2 separate regions of the Homo sapiens genome follow, and region 2 is linked to region 1. The links come from fine-mapping of genetic effects on gene expression. A gene starts in region 1. The other region holds a variant in brackets. All regions are shown on one strand. Distances are between the middles of the regions.

Evidence for each region. PIP is the estimated chance that this variant, and not a neighbour inherited with it, causes the effect.
Region 2: its variant is fine-mapped to the expression of ZXDC in whole blood (INTERVAL, PIP above 0.99). The same link has a PIP of 0.9 or more in nucleus accumbens, subcutaneous fat, sun-exposed skin, thyroid and tibial nerve.

What each region holds. Positions count from the first base shown.
Region 1 is chr3:126,471,185-126,481,420 of GRCh38, reverse strand. It overlaps ZXDC (ZXD family zinc finger C), which reads left to right and starts at 5,530. Exons shown (of 10, transcript NM_025112.5): 1 at 5,530-6,462; 2 at 9,116-9,268; 3 at 9,370-9,448. The coding sequence starts at 5,556. It overlaps UROC1 (urocanate hydratase 1), which reads left to right. Exons shown (of 20, transcript NM_144639.3): 20 at 1-255. RefSeq lists silencers at 5,261-5,770, 5,841-6,100 and an enhancer at 6,658-7,183.
Region 2 is chr3:126,436,803-126,447,038 of GRCh38, reverse strand. ZXDC (ZXD family zinc finger C) reads left to right here. Exons shown (of 10, transcript NM_025112.5): 8 at 5,093-5,274; 9 at 7,312-7,407; 10 at 8,578-9,438. The coding sequence ends at 8,664. Among named protein-coding and RNA genes, the nearest start is that of ZXDC, 34 kb to the left of the region's middle. RefSeq lists an enhancer at 5,161-5,796. The variant G/A (reference allele first, on the strand shown) is at 5,281.

The DNA.
Region 1 (10,236 bases):
AAGCCGGGTTCTTGGTCCCCACCCTCCCTGCACTCCGCATCTCCTCCCCAGCAGCCATTCTCCCCTTTCCCTTGTGAACAAAAGCCTAGTTTTGTGTGGGCAGCAATATAGGGTAAATAAAACCACCTGATTCTCCAGCCTTCCTTGCTGTTAGGAGGGACTGTTGGCCTAGTCCTGGCCCACGAGATGAGGGTGGGGTCTGTGGGGCAGGGCTTCTTGAGAGCCGTCGTTTTTCTAATAAAATGGACAGATCCAGCGGGGTTGCTTTTTGCCTTCGCCCCTTCGTCCTGCCAGAACCAAGATGTGGGGCCTGGAAACACAGCAACCAGGTTGGTCAGCTAGGGCGGCTGCCACATAATGTCTGGCACTGGGGCCCAAACAACAGAAATGAAACACATTTGCAGGCTGGAAGCCCAAGACCAGGTGCCAGCTGGCGTAATTCCTGGTGAGGCCAACTTCTCACTGCATCCTTCCATGGCAGAGACAGAGAGGGGAGAGTGTTACAGAGAGGGGCAGAGACAGAAAGACAGAGACAGAGAGGGGAGAGTGTTACAGAGAGGGGCAGAGACAGAAGGACAGAGACAGAGAGGGGAGAGTGTTACAGAGAGGGGCAGAGACAGACAGAGAGTCACAGAGAGAGACAGAGAGAGAGGAAGAGACAGAGAAAGAAAGAGATACAGAGAGGAAGAGACAGAGAAAGAGAGAGATAGAGAGAGTAAGAGACAGAGAAAGAGAGAAAGACAGAGATAGTGAGAGAGACAGGACAGAGTGTGTAGGGACGAATCGTCTGTCCCCACATCTCCATGAAAGCACCCTGCTGCATGGATCTGTGCACACATCTTAAGAGCGGGCCACAGGGCCCTGGCATCACCCTTTCCCCATCCAGCACCTTCCCTCTTGAAGGACAGGGAGGGCTCTGGTGGCTTCCAGCTGCACACAGACCCCAGACCCCCTCTGGGCTCCATACCAAGCCATGCCAGGGAGCAAGCTACTTCCCTGGCCCCTGCATGCCAACCTGCTGTCTGCTGCTGCAGTGGTAAGTGACAGCTGACTCCCACGGGGCTCACAGCGGAATTGGGGCAGCTGGTCACAGCTGTAGTCGCCATGGAAGGAACAGCGTGGCTTCTGATGTGCCCAGTGCCATCTTCTTTTTCAGAAGGCAAGGATGTATAGTCCAGTTAGAAATGTTTTCATCAAAATGATTAAAAGAGAAACCAGTTGGCCATGATGAGTGTAGGGTTCAGTTGCCTTAAGAGTTGGAGGTGAGAAAGGCTCAGGCCCTGCAGTACAGCATTAGGGTCCTCCCCCTGGGCAGCGCCTGCTCTCTGCAAACCCAGGGTCCCTGGGAACTGTATGCTTTCCTTGCTGGCAAGCCAAGGTCAGGGAGGGAGGGCCTGGCTGAGTGATGCACTCTCCCATTCCAGTTTTCCCAGAGTAGACAACCACACAGGGGCCTGTGGGCCGGGCATGACCTGCAGTTATGTTTTATTTATATATTTTTTAGAAATAGGATCTTGCTCTGTCACTCAGGCTGGAGTGCAGTGGTGCAATCATGGCTCACTGTAGCCTTGAACTCCTGGGCTGAAGTGATCCTCCTGCCTTAGCCTCCCAAGTAGCTGGGACCACAGGAGCACAGCACTACACTCAGCCTGCAGTTGTGTTTTGTTTGGTCTGTCCTGTTTTTAAAAAAATTTGACTTTGTCACCAATGTTTACAAATTGGGAGAAATCCAGAGCTTATTTTTTGAAAATCAAGATATAAGGTAACACCATGTTCTCACCACCTCTGTGGCAGTGATTTGCTGGGGGCCCCTCTGGGCTGGCCTAGCTCTCTGCACTTGGCCACAGTCCCTTCCAGTCCCTACAGAACCCATGGTGAGGCGGAGCGTGTATGCTGTTTGTCCCTTGGCATGAGAGTCTATGTTTCCTGTGCCCACCTGTCTCCCACATTTGTGTGACTTGTATGACCTCTGCTGGGATTTGAACTTGTGACCTTTGACAAAGAGATGCTCTTTTGCTCCCAGTGAACCTCATCCCCACTCCCATCAAAATTTGGGAATCCTGGACACTTCTCTGTTAGCAATCTCAAGATCCACATGATGCCTTTTAGCCCAAAAGAGGTGCTGGACATCCAGCGATACCTGGGCTGATGGGATTTCTCCCCAGACACAAATAAATCTGAGCGTGCATGCGTGTGTCATCTGCGTCCCTTCCCCTGGCTTCTCCAAAATCCTTTCCACACAGCCTGGAGAGTACAGGTCTGGCTGGCCAAGGCACAATCTCTGTGGTCCTTGTAATTTGGGGCACTCCTTTGAGACTACCAAGTTCAAGTCTCTGCCTGAGCCCCACTGGATGACCACATTGAGCTGACTCAAGCCCACCTGGTGAAGTGGCGCGTCTGACCCTCGCCAGGAGTCCTGTTGCTCCTTTCAGGGTATCTCAGCAGAAGGCTGAAACAACCTAGTATCTGAAACAACCTAGTATCAGATTTGAGCTTTGGTTGGGTGGGGGAGTCTTAGGAAGCGGGGATTTGCTCTGGATTGGCTCTTACCAGAAATCGGGTCAACACCATGACTAGGTTTCTGACTAAATCCTATATACAGAGAGGGAAGCACACAGACAGACAGGCTGTCAGGGGTACAAAAGCGGCGGCTGCTCACGTTAGCTGAGAGAGGGGCTGCTGGGTATCTTGTAAATGGCACAGCAAGTGACCTCGCTTTATCTGGGTGGAGACACATCATGAAGTGGCCTTGCTTTGTCTCATGTCATTGTGTTTCAGTGACCTTGGCCTAGGTTGGTTTTCTGCGTGATGGTTCAAGTCTTACAGAACAGAGTGGCCCAGCTGTAGCACCCGGCCAGTTTCTGGATGGCAGGGGCTGCCCTTTTTCTTTCTCAGTCCCCTTCATTTTACACATGAGGAAACTGAGGCACAGAGAAGTTGTGATAGTTTAAAAATGGCTGCAAATTCTTTCCAGCACCTCCCATTGAGAGGTGGAGTACAAGTTCCCCTTGCCTGGGTCTGCAGTGTCTTATGACTTCTTTGATCACGAGAATGTGGCATAATCAATGCTGCGCAACAAGTTGGGCATGGTGGCATATGCCTGTAGTCCAGTTAATTGGGAGGCTGACCCGGAAGGACTGCTTGAGGCCAGTTGGAGGTCGCACTATGATTGCACCTGTGAATAGCCACCACACTCCAGCCTCAGCAACACAGGGATGGACTTGCTGGGTCATGTGGAGATTATGTTTAGCTTTCTGCAGAACTGCCAAACTGTTTTCCACACCGCAACGTTATACATTCCCACCAGCCATATGTGAGAGTTCCAATTTTTCTATATCCTGTTTTTAAAAAAATTACCACTATTTGAGTAGGTGTGAAGTTGTATCTCACTGTGTTTTGATTTGCATTTCCCTAATGATTCGTGATGTTGAGCCTCTTTTTATTTGCTTATTGGCTGTTTGTATTATCTTCTTTGGAGAAATATGTCTATTCAAACCTTTGCCTTTTAAAAAAGTGGACTGTTTGTCTTCTTGCTAAGAGTTCTTTATATATTCCAGATAGTAGATCCTTATCAGATATTCGATTTGCACACCCTTCTCCCATTCTGAGTTGTCTTTTCACTGTCTTATTGGTGTCCTTTTACCTGAGTAAGTTTTTAATTTTGATGAAGTCCAAGTTATCTATTTTTCTTTCTTGTGCTTTCAATATTATATCTAAGAAACTATTCCCTAATCCAGGGTCACATAGATTTACACCTACTTTTCTTCAAATAGTTTTATGTCTTACGTGTAGGCTTTTGCTCTAATTTGAGTTAATTTTTGCCTCTGATGAGAGATACACGTCCAAATTGGTTCTTTTGCATGTGGAGATCCAGTTGTCCCAGTGCCGCCATTATTGAAATGACTATTCTTTCCTCTACTGAATGGTCTAGGAACAATATGTTTTCGGCATAAACTGATATATATAATAGATGTATCCTATTCTTTTTAATATTATAATTTGTGTTACTTAAAAAAATACTCTTAATAATAAAGCATTCATGTATTTAACAAATATGCACCAAGAGTCTTCCTGGGCACACACAGTGAATAGGACACAGTTCCTGGGCTCCAGGAGCCTACATTCCAGAGAGGGAGAGACAGTGAAGGAGCAGGGAAGGAACTCAACAAAACAACGGGTGATGAGAGCTCTAAGAGCAAACAGATCAGACAGAGGTGGGAATACGGGACTGGGTAAGCATGTGCTTTGGATCAGAAGGGGCGCAGAGTCCTCCCAGAGGAATCAGAGATCAGCTGCGCCAAGTCTCTGAGGCTGGAACCAGCTTGGCTTGCTGGATGAACTGGGAAAAAGAGGTGGGGTGCGGGGGAGGGGTGGGGGGGGCAGCGGGAGAGTGGCGGGAAGTGAGGGCAAACAGGTAGGGGAGGGTAGACTAGCAAGGCCATAGGCGCCTTCGGGAGCAAGGTGGAGGTGAGCATAATTTGATGTGCAATTTTTAGATCATAAAACGGTGCCCCGTGGATGGGAGCGAGTGGAGCGGAGGGAGACCGATGACCAGCTAGTAGTTATTTTTCAGGTACCCAGGAATAAAGTGCGGGTTTGGATCTGAGTGGTGGTGAAGTTGAAGTGGAGGAGTCCAGATTGAATGCGGAGGTGTACGGTGAGGTGGGGGAGGGTGAGGACCGGAAACAGTAAGTAATTAAGCTGTTGCAGAGTGAGGTTGTGCCAAGTTTAGTAGGAAATACAGTTGGAAATACAGGCAGGGGTCCTGCGTATCAGGGAGGCCCCGTGTGCCGAGCAAGGACCTGGGCCAAAGCAAACGAGGTCTGTGCGCCAGCGGCGGCAGGCGAGCTTGCACTTAAGTGAGCTGGGGGTAGGCGTCCGGCCTGTTGGACAGGTTCGAATCCTGGATCTGCCGGCTGCCGAGTGACTCGAGCTCGCCGTCCCTGTTTCCTCACCCCTGGGTGACCGCGCACGCTTAATCAGCTCGGACAGGTACAGCCCCTGGGACGCAGTCAATGCCTACGAGAGGTTGCCTGTTAAGTGTCTGAAATATTAATACGATTCGAAGTCAAGACAAGCCTCGTCTTCCACGCCAGCGGGAACGAGAAGGAATCGCTCAGCGTTGGGAGCCTCACCCCGTCCCCTGTCGGTCCCGTGCCCCGCCGCTCGCCCTCGTAGGTGCCGGCGCTCCGCCCCCCGACCCCGCGCCCCGCCCCCCGACCCCGCGCCCCGCCCCCCGACCCCGCGCCCCGCCCCCCGACCCCGCGCCCCGCCCCCCGACCCCGCGCCCCGCCCCCCGACCCCGCGCCCCGCCCTAGTCGGTCCCGGCGCCCCGCCCCCGCCTCCGCCTCCGGCGCCCCGCAGCCCAGCCTCACGTCACGTCAGCCCAGCAGGCCTCGCGCATCGCCCGGCGGCGTCCGCGCACGCGCGGTTCCGAGCCGGACTCTACGCCGGGGCTTGGCGCGGATCGCGTCCCGGGGCGGCGCACGCACACCTGGGCGGGGCGCGGGCAGCTCTGCGTCCGAAGCTGCTCCGACGCCGTCGCTGGGACCAAGATGGACCTCCCGGCGCTGCTCCCCGCCCCGACTGCGCGCGGAGGGCAACATGGCGGCGGCCCCGGCCCGCTCCGCCGAGCCCCAGCGCCGCTCGGCGCGAGCCCCGCGCGCCGCCGCCTGCTACTGGTGCGGGGCCCTGAAGATGGCGGGCCCGGGGCGCGGCCCGGGGAGGCCTCCGGGCCAAGCCCGCCGCCCGCCGAGGACGACAGCGACGGCGACTCTTTCTTGGTGCTGCTGGAAGTGCCGCACGGCGGCGCTGCCGCCGAGGCTGCCGGATCACAGGAGGCCGAGCCTGGCTCCCGTGTCAACCTGGCGAGCCGCCCCGAGCAGGGCCCCAGCGGCCCGGCCGCCCCCCCCGGCCCTGGCGTAGCCCCGGCGGGCGCCGTCACCATCAGCAGCCAGGACCTGCTGGTGCGTCTCGACCGCGGCGTCCTCGCGCTGTCTGCGCCGCCCGGCCCCGCAACCGCGGGCGCCGCCGCTCCCCGCCGCGCGCCCCAGGCCTCCGGCCCCAGCACGCCCGGCTACCGCTGCCCCGAGCCGCAGTGCGCGCTGGCCTTCGCCAAGAAGCACCAGCTCAAGGTGCACCTGCTCACGCACGGCGGCGGTCAGGGCCGGCGGCCCTTCAAGTGCCCACTGGAGGGCTGTGGTTGGGCCTTCACAACGTCCTACAAGCTCAAGCGGCACCTGCAGTCGCACGACAAGCTGCGGCCCTTCGGCTGTCCAGTGGGCGGCTGTGGCAAGAAGTTCACTACGGTCTATAACCTCAAGGCGCACATGAAGGGCCACGAGCAGGAGAGCCTGTTCAAGTGCGAGGTGTGCGCCGAGCGCTTCCCCACGCACGCCAAGCTCAGCTCCCACCAGCGCAGCCACTTCGAGCCCGAGCGCCCTTACAAGTGTGACTTTCCCGGTAACCGCGCTCTCGGGGGCGGGCGGGCTGCGCGGTGTTGCAGGCAGGTCTGGGGTGCCACGTCCGCCCCACAGAGGGGCCTGCCAGACCTTAGCAAGCCGGGGACGCAGGCTCTTCGGGATTTGTATTCTAGCTCCTTCCATGTCATTCGATTTGAGATCTTGGCCCTGCCCTGCCGCAGGGATTCCGATGGCAGGTAGCGCAGATCACCACAGCTGCGCTTCCCAAAGGTGGCGGCAACAGATATCCTTAACCTGCTTGTGCTTGATGAAAGCGGCACGCATCTTCACAGAGTGGCACGGAGCTATGTGTCAGGTCTTTATTTTCCTCAGTCTCGTCATTTGTTTACGGGGTGCACACTCCGTGCTAGAGGAGCAGAGATGAATGTGGCCAGATTCAGGACCTTAACACGCTGGGAGGATAGCCACAGGTGTGCGCACATCCTGGCTTTTTTTGCCTTTTGCACTTTGATTTCCGTTGAACCTCACAGTTTTGTGAAGTTTTAAAAATTAGCCGTCTGTGAAGGTTAAAAACTGTCCTCTTTTACAGATGAAGAGACAGAGGCCGAGCCTTGTGGATAAAGTCCACTGCTGGTGGCTGGGCGCGGTGGCTCACGCCTGTAATCCCAGCACTTTGGGAGGCCGAGGCGGGCGGATTACGAGGTCAGGAGATCGAGACCATCCTGGCTAACACGGTGAAACCCCGTCTCTATTAAAACTACAAAAAATTAGCCGGGCGTGGTAGCGGGCGCCTGTAGTCCCAGCTACTCGGGAGGCTGAGGCAGGAGAATGGTGTGAACCCCAGAGACGGAGCTTGCAGTGAGCCGAGATCGCGCCACTGCATTCCAGCCGGGGCGACAGAGCGAGACACCGTCTCAAAAAAAAAAAAAAAAAAAAGTCCACTGCCTGTTCTTTCTCCTGTGTGTTGACCTGCAGTTGTTGGGAATGTAGGACTCCAACACAGTGAGCTCTTCACCAGGATGGGCAGCTTTCCCTGCTTTCACAGGGATAGGGTTCCTCCAGAAGGGCAAGAAAGGATTCCTCCCTGGAAAGGCAGAAGAATGGAGTCGGCTGGGTGGCAGAGCCCAGGTGGGGATTGTGGTCTGTGGTGAGGGCCCAGGAGGAAGGACCAGTCATTCAAACAGAAACTGGAATGTGTGCCTAGCATGCCCCTAACCTGTATATGCACACGGCTCTCCTTATAATGTCCTTAAACAAGAATTTTTAAAGGATGAGATGAGAATTATGAACGGGTTTTATTATTTTTTCCCTCGCATATGCCTGTGGACTGTCTTGCGCATTCCTCTTCAGAGAGAATGTGGCTTGAGGCCACTAGCTCAAAGTCTTTTTCAGTCATACACTCTTGGGAATCTGATGGTGGCTGTAGACCCTTTCCCTGCTAAAAGAGTATCATTCTGTGTATGACACTGGGAAGGTCAGGGATCCCGCCTGCTTCCAGGCATGAGGTCTCTTGAGGGTTTTGTGTTGGCTGATCCATGAGGCTTCTTGTGTTGAGATGAGATTAGATGGTTAGATGAGATTAGATGTTTAGAAGCAGGAGCAGGACCAGGGAAGCATCATCAAAGGGCCCAGACCTGAGTTTTCTGAAGGCCTGAGCCAGGGAGTGGGAATGATGAGGGTCTCTAGCAGGTGAGATTGCAGAGGGAGAACCAAAGGGTGTAATTATCTATGGGGGTGTGGGGGGTTCTTGCCAAGGCAGAGAGAGTCTGTGTTCAGATTTACATGACCAAGTGTGTGAACACACCGAAGCCCAAAATACCCTGGAGGTATTTTGGGACCAGATTGAGGCCAAAGATCAGCATTTCTGAGTTAGATGTTGCTGGGGAAAGTAGGGTTCCTTGGGCTGATACTTTTGGGCAGTGCTATGCCATGTACATCTGTGTGGCAGTTCATAGGCATGATAGTATCTCGTTAAAGGCTCCAAGAGGAGCTGCAGCAAAGACTCCTGTTAAACATCCTGCAGCCTCATGTTTTCCACCCTGTTGGAGCCCTGAATGTTTCTGTCGGAGGAGAAGTATTGCTGTGGAATTGTTGAGGCTTAGCTGCTTTGGCCAGGGGTTAGGATTGAGGTGAAGATTACAAAGCAGGGAACCTAAGGAAATTGCGAAAGGAAAAAGAATCCAAACAGCAAGGGACAGGGCTGGCAGTTGGAGGGTGTCAGGGAGGAAATTTGGATATGTAGAGGATGCAGCATCACCCCCAAGGGGTGAAAAATCCTGGCTAGTAGGATGATTTGTAGCCTTTCAAAGATCAACCCTACCAGACAAAATCTTGTTCCTTAGTATTTGATTTCTCTCATGGGGTTCTTGGGTCTCAGTGTGTGTGCAGGATCAGTGCTCCGGAGCCGGCCAGTAGATGGCTGTGAACGGAGGACTTTCTCTTTATCGGTTGCTCCATCTCCAAGTCATGTTGCAACAGGTGGCCAGCGTGTGCCTATTGGCTGCCATTAGCTGCCTTCCTGTGGTGATCACAAAGCCAAGCATTAATGGTCTTCCCTTTTTAGAGAGTGCTTCTGAGTCATGTTTTCCCTTGTCTGCTTCAGTGTGAACAGGGTCTGGTGGGTGTGACTAGCATTAGCTATGTTGTATAATTTTTGCCACGCTTTGAGCAGGGTTTGTGTTTTCCTTGTTCAGGCTGTGAGAAGACATTTATCACAGTGAGTGCCCTGTTTTCCCATAACCGAGCCCACTTCAGGGAACAAGAGCTCTTTTCCTGCTCCTTTCCTGGGTGCAGCAAGCAGTATGATAAAGCCTGTCGGCTGAAAATTCACCTGCGGAGCCATACAGGTAATGAGCTAGGGAACGCACAGCATTTGGACCCAAGATTTGTCTTCATCGTAGCTGTTGGAGTTGTAAATTTTATGCTGTATAATTTTTTCTTTTATAAGGTGAAAGACCATTTATTTGTGACTCTGACAGCTGTGGCTGGACCTTCACCAGCATGTCCAAACTTCTAAGGCACAGAAGGTAATCCTTACATTTTGGTTTGCATTATCAGGTTTGAAAATGAGTGGTTTGTCAGCAGCAGAAACCAATGAATGAAATATCTGTAGACATTTTTTAAGTTGTTAAAAAAGGAGCTCAGTGTTGATGATTTGGAAAATTCAGAAAACTGTAAAAAGAAAATTGCTCAGAATCTCATCACCTGAAGTCAGTTTTTTCTGTGTATACTTTTTTTAAAAAAAGCTAAATTGGCATACTCTGTTCTTAAAAAAAAAACAATTCCAGGTTTTTTTTTTAACTTAACATTGTAGAATAAGCTTTCTTCATGTAATTACAAGTTTTCATGGTGGTAATGACAACCCTGGAGACTGTGTCCAGGTGACACTCAGCACTTTACATGTGTGTCTTCTACCTTCCCAACAACCTCAAAGCTAATGTTCTTATTCTCCCTGTTTTACAGTGAGACTCGGAGAGATTCAGTGGTTTTTCTGTACTTGCACAGCTGGGCTCTGAGGATTTAATATAAAAATGTCACTTAGGAAAAGACACAGTCTTTACAAGTTGGCTTAAGAGAGTCCTTTTGGCATTGCAGCTGATGCTCTGTGCACATTTCTCACGACCGTCTGTCGCTCGGAAAGCTTGTTGATCATTGGGGTTTCTAAACAATAGAAACACCTTCATCAATACATTTGGGACTCCACTGTTCTTAGATTAGCTTATATTAGATTGAAGTAGCATTAATTGTTTGATGTGTGACTCTGGGGTCAGCTTAGTCATTAAAGTAGAATTTTTATGGGGTAGCTAAATTGCAA
Region 2 (10,236 bases), 34 kb after region 1:
GTCGTGTGAGCAGCACATCCCTAAGCAAAGGGTGAGCACTCAGCACAGGCAGGGCTGGTCATGTGGGTTTACTCTGGAAGAGATCATTGTGGGTTCCTTATGCTTTCTCCCCTGTAGCTTCACCACCCAAGAAAAACTACTTACAGTGTTTCAGTGTTAAACTGAATGAAACCTACACAAATGTGAAATCTGAAACCTACACAAATGACTTGTTTTTGAAAAATGATAAACATTTTTATCTGCTTTTTGTTCTTAATATGAATATTTTTCCTTGTGGATAAGTATATTAACATATTATATCTTTATAAGAGCTGTGTTGAACTAACCATGTCAGGGACCTAGTGAGTTAAGCCCCAGTGACCTCTGATCTTCCACCCTTGGGAGAATTGGGAAAATAGTCACTTACCTCCTGTTCAAGTGAGGATCTCAGTAGAGGAAGCTCGCATGACCCCCTGTGGTTATCAAGGGAGGGGCCTGAGCCTCATCTGTGCAGATCCTTTCTCGGGGCACCTGGCTGGCTCTGAACTCTGTCCTGTGGCAGGCACTGCGGTGCTACTGGTGTGGGGATGGCATGCTGTTTGAGCCAGGCCCAGTGCTGTTGACCTCACCTAATTCTCGTCATGGCACGGTGAGGTGAAAGCAGTGTGGCCATCTCCATTCACCGCAGATGATGGGAGCTGAGTCACATAGCTGGATCGTCCAGCTCCCAAGCCGGGGCCCTTGACCACTTTGCTATTTACCATCATACCTAGATAGGACTCTTCCTTAAGGAGTCCTTCCTTGCTTCCCAGGAGGTTGCTTGGTGTTGGATTTATACTGCTCCTCTCCCCACTCCTGCAGATTCTCCAGCACAAGCAAGCATTTTGGATAATGATTGAAAATATTGAAGCAAAATGTAGTTCGGTGTTGTTACCTTGTTCTATAAGGGTTTGTGGTTGTCCATTGTGAGAGAGGAATTTGATTTTTCTTGTGACTGCTTTATTAATTAAATTGATCATATTGCATTTGATGCCATGGCGCCCTTTACTAGTGAGGACCCAGGGCTTCATGGTTATCGTGAGGACGTGGTGTGGACCCCATTTGTTTGCTTTGGCATGTCCTTAAGCATCCCTAGATAAACATACTTGCTTAGTTAACCCAGGAAGTTTATGATTAACTTTCAGCCATCTTAAATGTTCACGACATACCACCAGACTTCAGGGTGTACCGTCAGGGATTCTAGGACAGAACACCCTGCTCAGGCCTGGGGGACAACTCAGCAACTGGGGCTTGGCCCCTCCTCCCCTGGCTGCCCTGTTCTCTCACAGCTGTTGGCCTGGACCCCTGCATCCTTTCCAGGTTCATCTTCCAGGTGCAGTCCTTGCTGGAACGGACTCTCTGAGAAGGGGTGTCCGAGCTCATCTGTGGCAGGTTCTCCCCCTCACCCACAGCTGTCCTTCTGCTTGCCAAAAAACGGGGAGGCTGCAACTCTCCACCAGACTTCTACTGCAGTGTGTTGCCTTGGAGTGCACACAAAAACAGGATATCCTTCCAGAGCACCAAACCCAGGGGCAGTTCCAAATACTGGTTTCAGGGAAGCATCCTGTAGAATAATACCGACATTAAAACTTTAATGAGCCGGGCTTGCCAGCTTACCCTTCCTGTGCAGAGATGTGTCTAGGGGTGGACGCTGAGATGTTCTGCTTGAGGTACATCAGAGAGGGGATGTGGGGCATGGATGGACATCTCTCGTAGAAAGTCCTCACCTTTGCCAGCCCTCTGCTGTTGTCAAAGAATGTATTACTTTTCAGGAATGAGCCCTATGTATGTATAAGCGTGAGCAATTCTTTTCAGCTATTGACTTTTTATCCCTAGACGAGTTGTTAGCTGGGAAGAAAAATACCTTCTGATGCAAATTAGTGGTGGTGTTTCTTCTCAGTGTAACTGGTGTCTACAGGACTACCTGAGACACTGAATTAAATGTGCGGATTGAAAAGAAATTCCTGTGATTTTTTTTCATATTGTATGCTGATACAGAAGTTGAAACCAATTTAGCTTGTCATGAGATATTCTCGTTACAGCCTATCTTTTTTCCTGTTGTAAAAGTAATACAAGTAAATTGTTAATAAAGATAGAATCATTTTAGTTACTGGTTTAGGTATAAAAGGAAAGTGTAACCATGTCTAGCAACATTAGTGGAATTATTTCTGATTTTGCACCCAATTCTGATTTTCCCATGATTCGAATGGCACATACATTCTAGCACACATTTTGCAAAGGAATATTAGGATTCAGTCATATTTCTTGCTTTGTAGGTAACTTAGAGCGTGGCGTACACATTTGGCATTGAATCATGATGAATGGCTCAGTTTTATCTTGTTTATGTTATAAAACTTGATAATAAATACTTGATATACATCATTTAAAATCTTGCCTGCTTTTAAAAGAAATCTGGAGAGATACACTATTCACTGCCTGCCTTAATTTATTCTACAGTGGTTTTCATATTATTATTATTTTTTTTTTTTGAGAGGGAGTCTCGCTCTGTCACCCAGGCTGGAGTGCAGTGGCATGATCTCGGCTCACTGCAAGCTCTGCCTCCTGGGTTCATGCCATTCTCCTGCCTCAGCCTCCCGAGTAGCTGGGACTACAGGCACCCGCCACCACCACTGGCTAATTTTTTGTATTTTTAGTAGAGACGAGGTTTCACCGTGTTAGCCAGGATGGTCTCGATCTCCTGACCTTGTAATCTGCCCGCCTTGGCCTCCCAAAGCGCTGGGATTACAGGCGTGAGCCACTGCGCCCGGCCAATATTTCTAATATAATAACATGTTTCAGTATTTTTATTTGAATTTAAAAATGAAGCCAGGCCTTTTATTAGAAAGCAAGCGTAATGCGACTGTTCTGGCTGCAGCACCGGCCCTGCTGCTGGGGCTTCGTGGGCAGGCAGTTCCCCCTCACTTGAATAAACTCAACCTGCAGCTGCAAAGTTGTGATGACACATGAGCATCTTATTTTAAAAAAGTTTTTAATTGACAAGAATAGATGCTGACCATGTCTAATTCTAGCAAGAAGTAATATTTAGACACAAATACATGAACTAACTGGGGAAGAAAACCACCAGTCAGTCCCACTCCTCTTGAAAAGCATTTTTAATATAATTTTGCTTTTAATATCATAATTATCTATCAAAGTTTCTGATATATTTTGTTTTGATTTGTTTTGCATTACTAATAATTGCAGTTGTAACAGTTCAAACCAAAAATGTTAATGCCTAGAAGTTAAATAAAAGTTAAGTTTATGTACATATTTTTATATGCTAGGGTGATAAAAGACTTGAAAGCATAGAAATGCATTCAGGTAAAATTCTGGAGGTAAGTGGGATAGTATACAAGCTCACGGAGGATATAGGCACGCTTCATTTTTTGCAGTTGACTTTTTTTTTGCTTTTTACAAATTGAAGGTTTGTGGCAAACCTGTATCCAGCAAGTCTGTTGGCACCATTTTTCCAACAGCATGTTCTCACTTCATGTCTATGTCGGTATTTGTTAGCAATAAAGTATTTTTAAATTAAGGTATGCATTGTTTTAGACATAATGTTATTGCAGACTTAATAGACTGCAGTACTAGGAACTGATGTGAAGTTTCCTCAAGGAGGGGTGAGTAAGTTTTGTGCCCCAGGCACCTCTCTTGCCCCAGACCCAGCCCTGCTCTTCTGTCTGAAGCAAGTAGAGCAATTAGAAAAAGAGAAACCAGGCGTGGAGAACAGTCAGAGATGATCCAGAGCGAGGGTTGCTGGGTTTTCTGGAACACTGATGGATGAACAGAAAGGAAGTATTTTGTAATGGAAGTGCATCTCCCTGCAGTGAGGGGGAACTGAATCTGTGTTACCCAGAAACCTCCTGGTTAGCATTTGCACTTCAAAGAAAAAGAGCCCTGAGGCACCCAGAAAAGACAGCAGGCTGTGCCTAAGTACAGAGGACCCAAGGTTTGTGCACCCAGTTGGCTTGCCTGCTGAGTGTGAAGCTCTCCGGGACCCAGGGCACTGCGGAAGACAGGAAGGGATCTGGAGTGAGGTGAGCAGGTCAGGGAGACAGCATATGCAGGGCAAGTCAGCTCTCACCCCATGGGCTGCTCAGAACCTTCCTGTCAAACAGCCTCGTAAAAACAGCCTGCCTTGGGCAGCAGGGTCACCCAATTGAATACTTTTATTAGGAATAACTTATATGATAGTCATTGTACAGTTGTTTTTTTGAAGCCGTTCATAGCTGGATCCCACACATCCAGGCAGGGATGTGTGGGCAGAGCAGTGACAGTGCCTAAACTCCTTGGCACTCGCCAGTCACTGTTCTAAGTTTTGATCACATATTTCCTATGAAATCCTCTCCAAAACCTTCCGAGGTTGGGACTAGCATTCCCATTTTACAGGTAGATAATGCTGAGGCCCAGAGCTTGAGTTCCTTTTCCAGATCCCTGGAGCAGAGTGGGTGGCGGGTCAGGGTGAGCCTAGCCGGGGTCTCTGCAGTGCACGCTCTAGGCTACCTTTGGGCCCTTTTGAAGCAGCTCTTGGGTTTGTTATGGGTGTTAAGATTTTTTCTTTTTTCTTTGTGCTTTACTTCATTTCTTAAGAAGCACATATTTGTAAAACCCATGGAGTAGTGACTTGGAAAGGAGCTGGACAGAGGCAGCAGTCCACCCACAGGTGGGGTATGGAGACCGCCCGCTTCCTTCCTATTCCATGATGCTGTGGCTCTGGGCTGTTGGCTGTCCTCAGTTGCGCTTGGGATTCCTGCCAGCCAGCAGCTGCTGGAGTTAGAGGATTCTGCTCTCCAAGAATTTGCAGCTTGTGTCTGATTACCGTACCGTCTGGCAAAAAAATACGTATGATGTTTTTACATTTTTAAAATCAAAATCCTGATGTTTTTTTGTTCGTATGGTTGTTTGTTTCAACCTCTTAACTCTTGATTTTTTCTGTTAAGTGATTTTACGTCTCTTAGCTGTGCAGAATGACAATTAATGGGAAGGCTGTCTTCCCCATAGTGAGACCTTGGTAAGGGCAGACCTGACTGGTAGATTGTAGATTGGGTGTGCTCGTTTTTATATTTCATTTTAGGAGCCTCACAGTCTACTCAGAGAAAAATAAAAGAAGGCAAAATGAGTCCTCCCCATTTCCATGCAAGCCAGAACAGTTGGTTGTGTGGGAGCCTCGTGGTGCCCAGCGGAGGACGGCCAGGACCAGCTCCAGCAGCTGGGGTGCAGTGCGGGGCGCAGGGCGTCCAGGTCCAGCTGGTGCAGGTGAGA[G/A]CTGGCCAGTCACACAGGCCAGCTGTAGGCGGGGTGGGAGGGTCACGCAGGTCTGAGCAGTGTGCGGCATGCTGCATCCCCTGCCCATCGCAGCACCCCCTGCCTGCCTGCCCCTCGTGCATCCTCCCCTGTAGACTGCCCCAAGTCCTGTCTCCTCACAGCCCAGCTCCTCCCTTTTTCCCAGCCTGTCCTGCATCTGCTCAAGCTCTGAGTGTTGCTGGGACCGTGCATCCACTTCCTGAACCTGTCTGTGCACAGCCCTGCGTCTAGCCCCAGAGTAGCCCGCCTCCCTGCCCGAGGCCCCCAGGGCTGTTTTGCAGCAGGATGAGATCTGTTTGAGGCCACCCTGCCCTTCTTCTGCAGGGCTGGGGCAAAAGGGCTCCGCAGGCCGTCTCAGCCACCCCATTTCTAGGGCGGCCTGCTTGTGGCGCACTAGCAGCCTTTCTATGCTGAAGGTGGTGGGGGTCTTTTCAGTGTTTTTCTATTTTCTTTCCTACGAAACAGAGCCCCTCCAGGGCAGGCCCAGGCCCCTCCCAGCCTGTCCGGGCCACAGATACCTGCAGCTGTGGCCAGTTTCCAGGAGGTCTTTGAGCACACCTGCTTCAGCAGCCCTGAGCACACCTGCATCTTCAGTCTCAGTTTGAGGGGCTGGAATGGGGAGGGAAGATGATTTGGAAGGATTTGGGGAGAGAAGAGATATACAAGCCGGGGCTGTCTGGGTTTGGCCCAGGTGTGTGCCCCTCTTCACCACTCCACTTTGTAGATTCCCTGTGGCAGGGGATGCGGTTGCAGGCCCCACGGAAGTGCGGAGGGTGGAGGTGACGCTGGCTCTGAGTTGGGAAACAGGCACGTTTGTGGGTTCAGAGTCCTGGGAGAGTCTCGCCAAGGAAACAGGACCAGGCCTGGGGCTCAGAGAGGCAAGAGGAGGGGCAGCCTGGGCAGAGGTGGGCTGGGAAGGGGGCAGGGAAGAGGCTGCGGGCAGCTGGGGGTGGCCCTGTGCTGGTTGGAAGCTAGCGGTGAGCGTCAGATGGGGGCTGAAGCTTGTCTTAGAGAGGGGCAGGAGCACTGGTCCTTTGTTTCCAGCTTCTGAAGAGGTAAGAACTCCCCAGGAGCAGGGGCAGGGGGAGGGGGAGGACCATCCAAGGAAACACTGCCTCAGCTGGCAGGGCAGAGGTACAGAGTCAGGACCAGAGGCTTGGCAATAGGGAGACGGTAGGGAAGCTGGTGCCACCGGCAGAACAGGAGCAAGTAGGGGGTATACTTTTAAGAGATGCCTGATTAAACCTGGGTTTGAGTTCTTTTTCTGTCCCTTACCAGCTAGCGTAGTCTTGGTTACTTAAGCACTCCGGGCCTCAGTTTTGTCATCTATGAAATGGGAACAGTAGTGCAGACCTTGACACACAGGAGCTTCTCAAACAGAAGGAATGAGAGGTGCAGAGCAGCAGCACCAGGAGCTCCGCTTCGGGGTGTGAATGGCCATGGGCGGACATGCAGGTGCAGGACAGGCGAAGTGTGGGACAGATGAAGTTTCTAGCCTGGACTGTGAGGGGCCTGGCAGCCTCCCCTCTCAGGAGCCCCTCTACCTGCCCTGGTCCTTCCAGCTGGCCCGTAGGCAAGCTGGGGCATGCAGGGAAGGCCCTCTGTGGGGCCCGAGGATTTGCTGGAGAGCACTCTGGGTACACAAGGTTGGTGGGGGTACAGGGCGTGCCAGGGCACCTGCAAGGAGTTGAGGAGCGTGCCTTAGGAGGGAAATCAGTATTTGGGCTGACTGAGGGGAGGAGCTGGAGAGCAGAAGGTTCCAGGCCCAGCAAAAGCTGCTGGGATCAAGGTGACAGAATGAGAACCAGGTGGGAACAGGTAGTACCCAGCCCCCATAAACAATTCCTGCTGGGTCCTCGGGCCTCCCTTGGAATACAGGGGGTGGGCTGGTTCTGCCACGCATTGCAGCTGGAGGAGACTTCTCAGGTGAGACGAGGACCTTTGCTGCACTCTCACAGACATGTGACAGGCCTTTCTGTGTTGCCTTCCCAGGATGACCCCTCCGGCGAAGGTGTCCTGCCCTCGGCCCGCGGCCCAGCCACCTTCCTCCCCTTCCTCACTGTGGACCTGCCCGTCTACGTCCTCCAGGTCTGGATGCCTTACTGCCCTTTGTTTTTCTTATTGAGACTCGCAGAGCCTTCGACTTCCAGAAGCCTGGCTTCACAGCTGCAGGCTGGTCACTGAGGCCGCGTGGCTTGGGAGGCTCAGTGGGTTGGTTGCCAGGATGTCTTGCTGCCTTCTGGAGAAGGTGGGTGAGTGGAGCTCAGATCTGCAGGACGCTGCAGCTCCTGCTGGTAGACAAAGCAGGAGAAGTTAATATGCTCTTGAAAGTGTTGTGCCTAGGAATTCCAGTTAATTCTCTGGGAAGAGGGCTGGCCAGGGCCCAGCCTGTGGGAGAATAGACTCGGATGAATTCAGTAGTTTGCTTACGTGGTTAAGCTAAGGATGGGTGGCAGTGAATGATTCAGAGTTTGATATGAAATAGCGAAAGCGTATAGCTTATCACATTTCTAACAGTTTGCCTTACGTGTTTATATATTTACAATAAGCCATGCAAATTGTGTTTTAGTTTTTTTGCATTCAAATTGGGCTATTCAGCATTTCCCTCGCAATCAAAACCAAACTTGGACAGAAGCACTGGTGGGAGCAGAGGGCCGGGCACCCAGGCTGCAGAGGGGTGAGCTGGAGGGCGGTTTGGCAGCATGGATCAGAGAACTTCAGAAGTGTCTGCTCCATCCTGCCTGGCAGCCCCCTCCTGGGACTGCTCCTGAAAAAATAAGGTAGTGACATAATCACCGTAGCCCGGAGTCAAATGGTGCAACAGCAGGAACACTTCTTGTAGCAGGAGGAGACAGGCTAGATGGGGCCTCCATAGCCCTGGGCCACATCCTGGTCAGCTGTGAGGGCACAGGCGGACGGACACCTAATACCTGGGAGAGTGCTCACCGCGTGAGAAGTGCGGAGAAAGGGTTGCAGAAGTAAAGATGATTTTGTTTCTGTAAAAAGGCATATGGGTATATGAACATGTGAGGGTATACGTCAATGTGCAGACAGAACAATCTTGAAAAATTTACAGTACAGTATTGAGTTCATTTTTCATCAAAGAACATGTGTTTAGAATAAGGGGAGCCTGTAGTTTTGAGTAAGAGAAGTCAGGTATCTCACCACGGGCCTGGTCAGTGTCCTGCTGTGTGGAGCCACAGGATCCCTCTGCCTCCCCTCCCTCCTCCCTCTTCATGACAATGCTTGGTTTTGCAGGAGGTGCTCCCCTCATCTGGAGGCCCTGCTGGACCGGAGGCCACCCAGTTCCCAGGAAGCACTATCAACCTGCAGGATCTGCAGTGACGGCAGCCTCGGCCTGGGCAGGCCCAAGGCCACGGTCTAGGACACACCTTCCCTGAGACTCATGACATGAGCCTGGGGAGACCTCATTTGGTTTCCGTTCAGAAGACCAGCGTAGCCCTTTTGAGACTTTTGGGTACATTTATCAAAAATGTTTTCCTTTTGTTTTACCAGGAATGAGTTCGGGCTATACTCTTTGAAACTGCCTTTGTGAGCAAAGTGCTTTGGCAAGGCAAGGGTCTCCCTCAGCAGGGCTAGGTGCACTACAGCCTCTTTCCCCGTGTCCCGTTGGATCTGAGCTGTGTAGCACTTGTTGCATTACAAAGAAAAAGACTTCTGCAGGAAATAGGGTAGAGAACAGGCTGTCTAGTCAGATGCAGCTTGATCTGTGGCAAAACCAAGTGTGGTCTTTCAGCTTCAGTGTGTTAGCATCCCAGCACCTGGGATGGGGTTTGTGGGCAAGTTGATTTTGCCACACTGTAGGGCCCAGGTGGTCCCATTGCCACCGTGAAGCCAAATTCTAGCCCAAGTCTGGTAGAGCAGTCGGGCAGCTAGTTTTCGGGGGAGGATGATGTGGTGGGACAGAGGACCTCAGTGGCCTATTACGGAGCCCTCTTCCCAGACTAAATTCATAGCCGAGAGCTCGGGGGGATGGTAGAGTTAAAATTTAAAATAATTTTCTAAATTCTGTATTTGGATATTAGTGTTTAAGTGGTAATTTGGCAACAGTTTATAAAGTGATGTTCTGAATACCATAAATTATGTGTAGGACTGTGATGGCGCGTGTATGTTTTATTATTGAGGTTGATGTGCACATAATACGTCAGTGTATATTTTTACCGAGTGAGGTCTGTCTTGTAAAAGGAGACAAGGTGATCACCTTGCCCATGTTTATTTGTAAGTCTGTCAACTTAGCAATGACACAGGGTCACTCCTAAATGACTTTTTTTTTTTTTTTTGCCTTGTGCCTTTTGAAGTATGTGTTCATTCAGAGGCTGTTTTGATTCTCAGACTGAATCATTCAAACTCTGCCCTGTGTTTGTTTCTTGAATTTGGGGGTGACATCAAGTTTGAGTGAGTCCTCCCTCTGTCTTGTCTCACTCTGAGGTGCTGTCCCCAGGTGCTGTTCCACGTGGAAGAATCCACACCTCGTCGACAAATGGGTCTTCTCCACAGACCGGCGCTCTGTCACCAACTAAAGGCGAGGGGAGAACTTGCCCACCTGGCAGGCTCTTTAGCCCCAAGGTGGCCCGGAGTCCTCCTCCCTCCATGGGAGGCTTTTGGCCACCATGGCGGGTGGAGCCGCACCCACCCCATCTCCATGGGGAGGAGAGTCTTCCCCCAGGAATGCCCTCTCGGCCTCTATTTTTCTCCCATGTGCCTCCCTGGGAACGTCACCGTGAAGTGACTGGGACTGGCACCCAGTGTTCTGGGCACCAAGGTTCCCTGCCGGTGATGGGCCTAACTCCTAGTGCAAATGAATGAAAGTTTTCTTATAGTCATGCACCGAAGGTTTTTCACCTTGGCTTAATTCAAGTAGCTACATATATGGCATTCAGCCCATTGTTTCTCCTT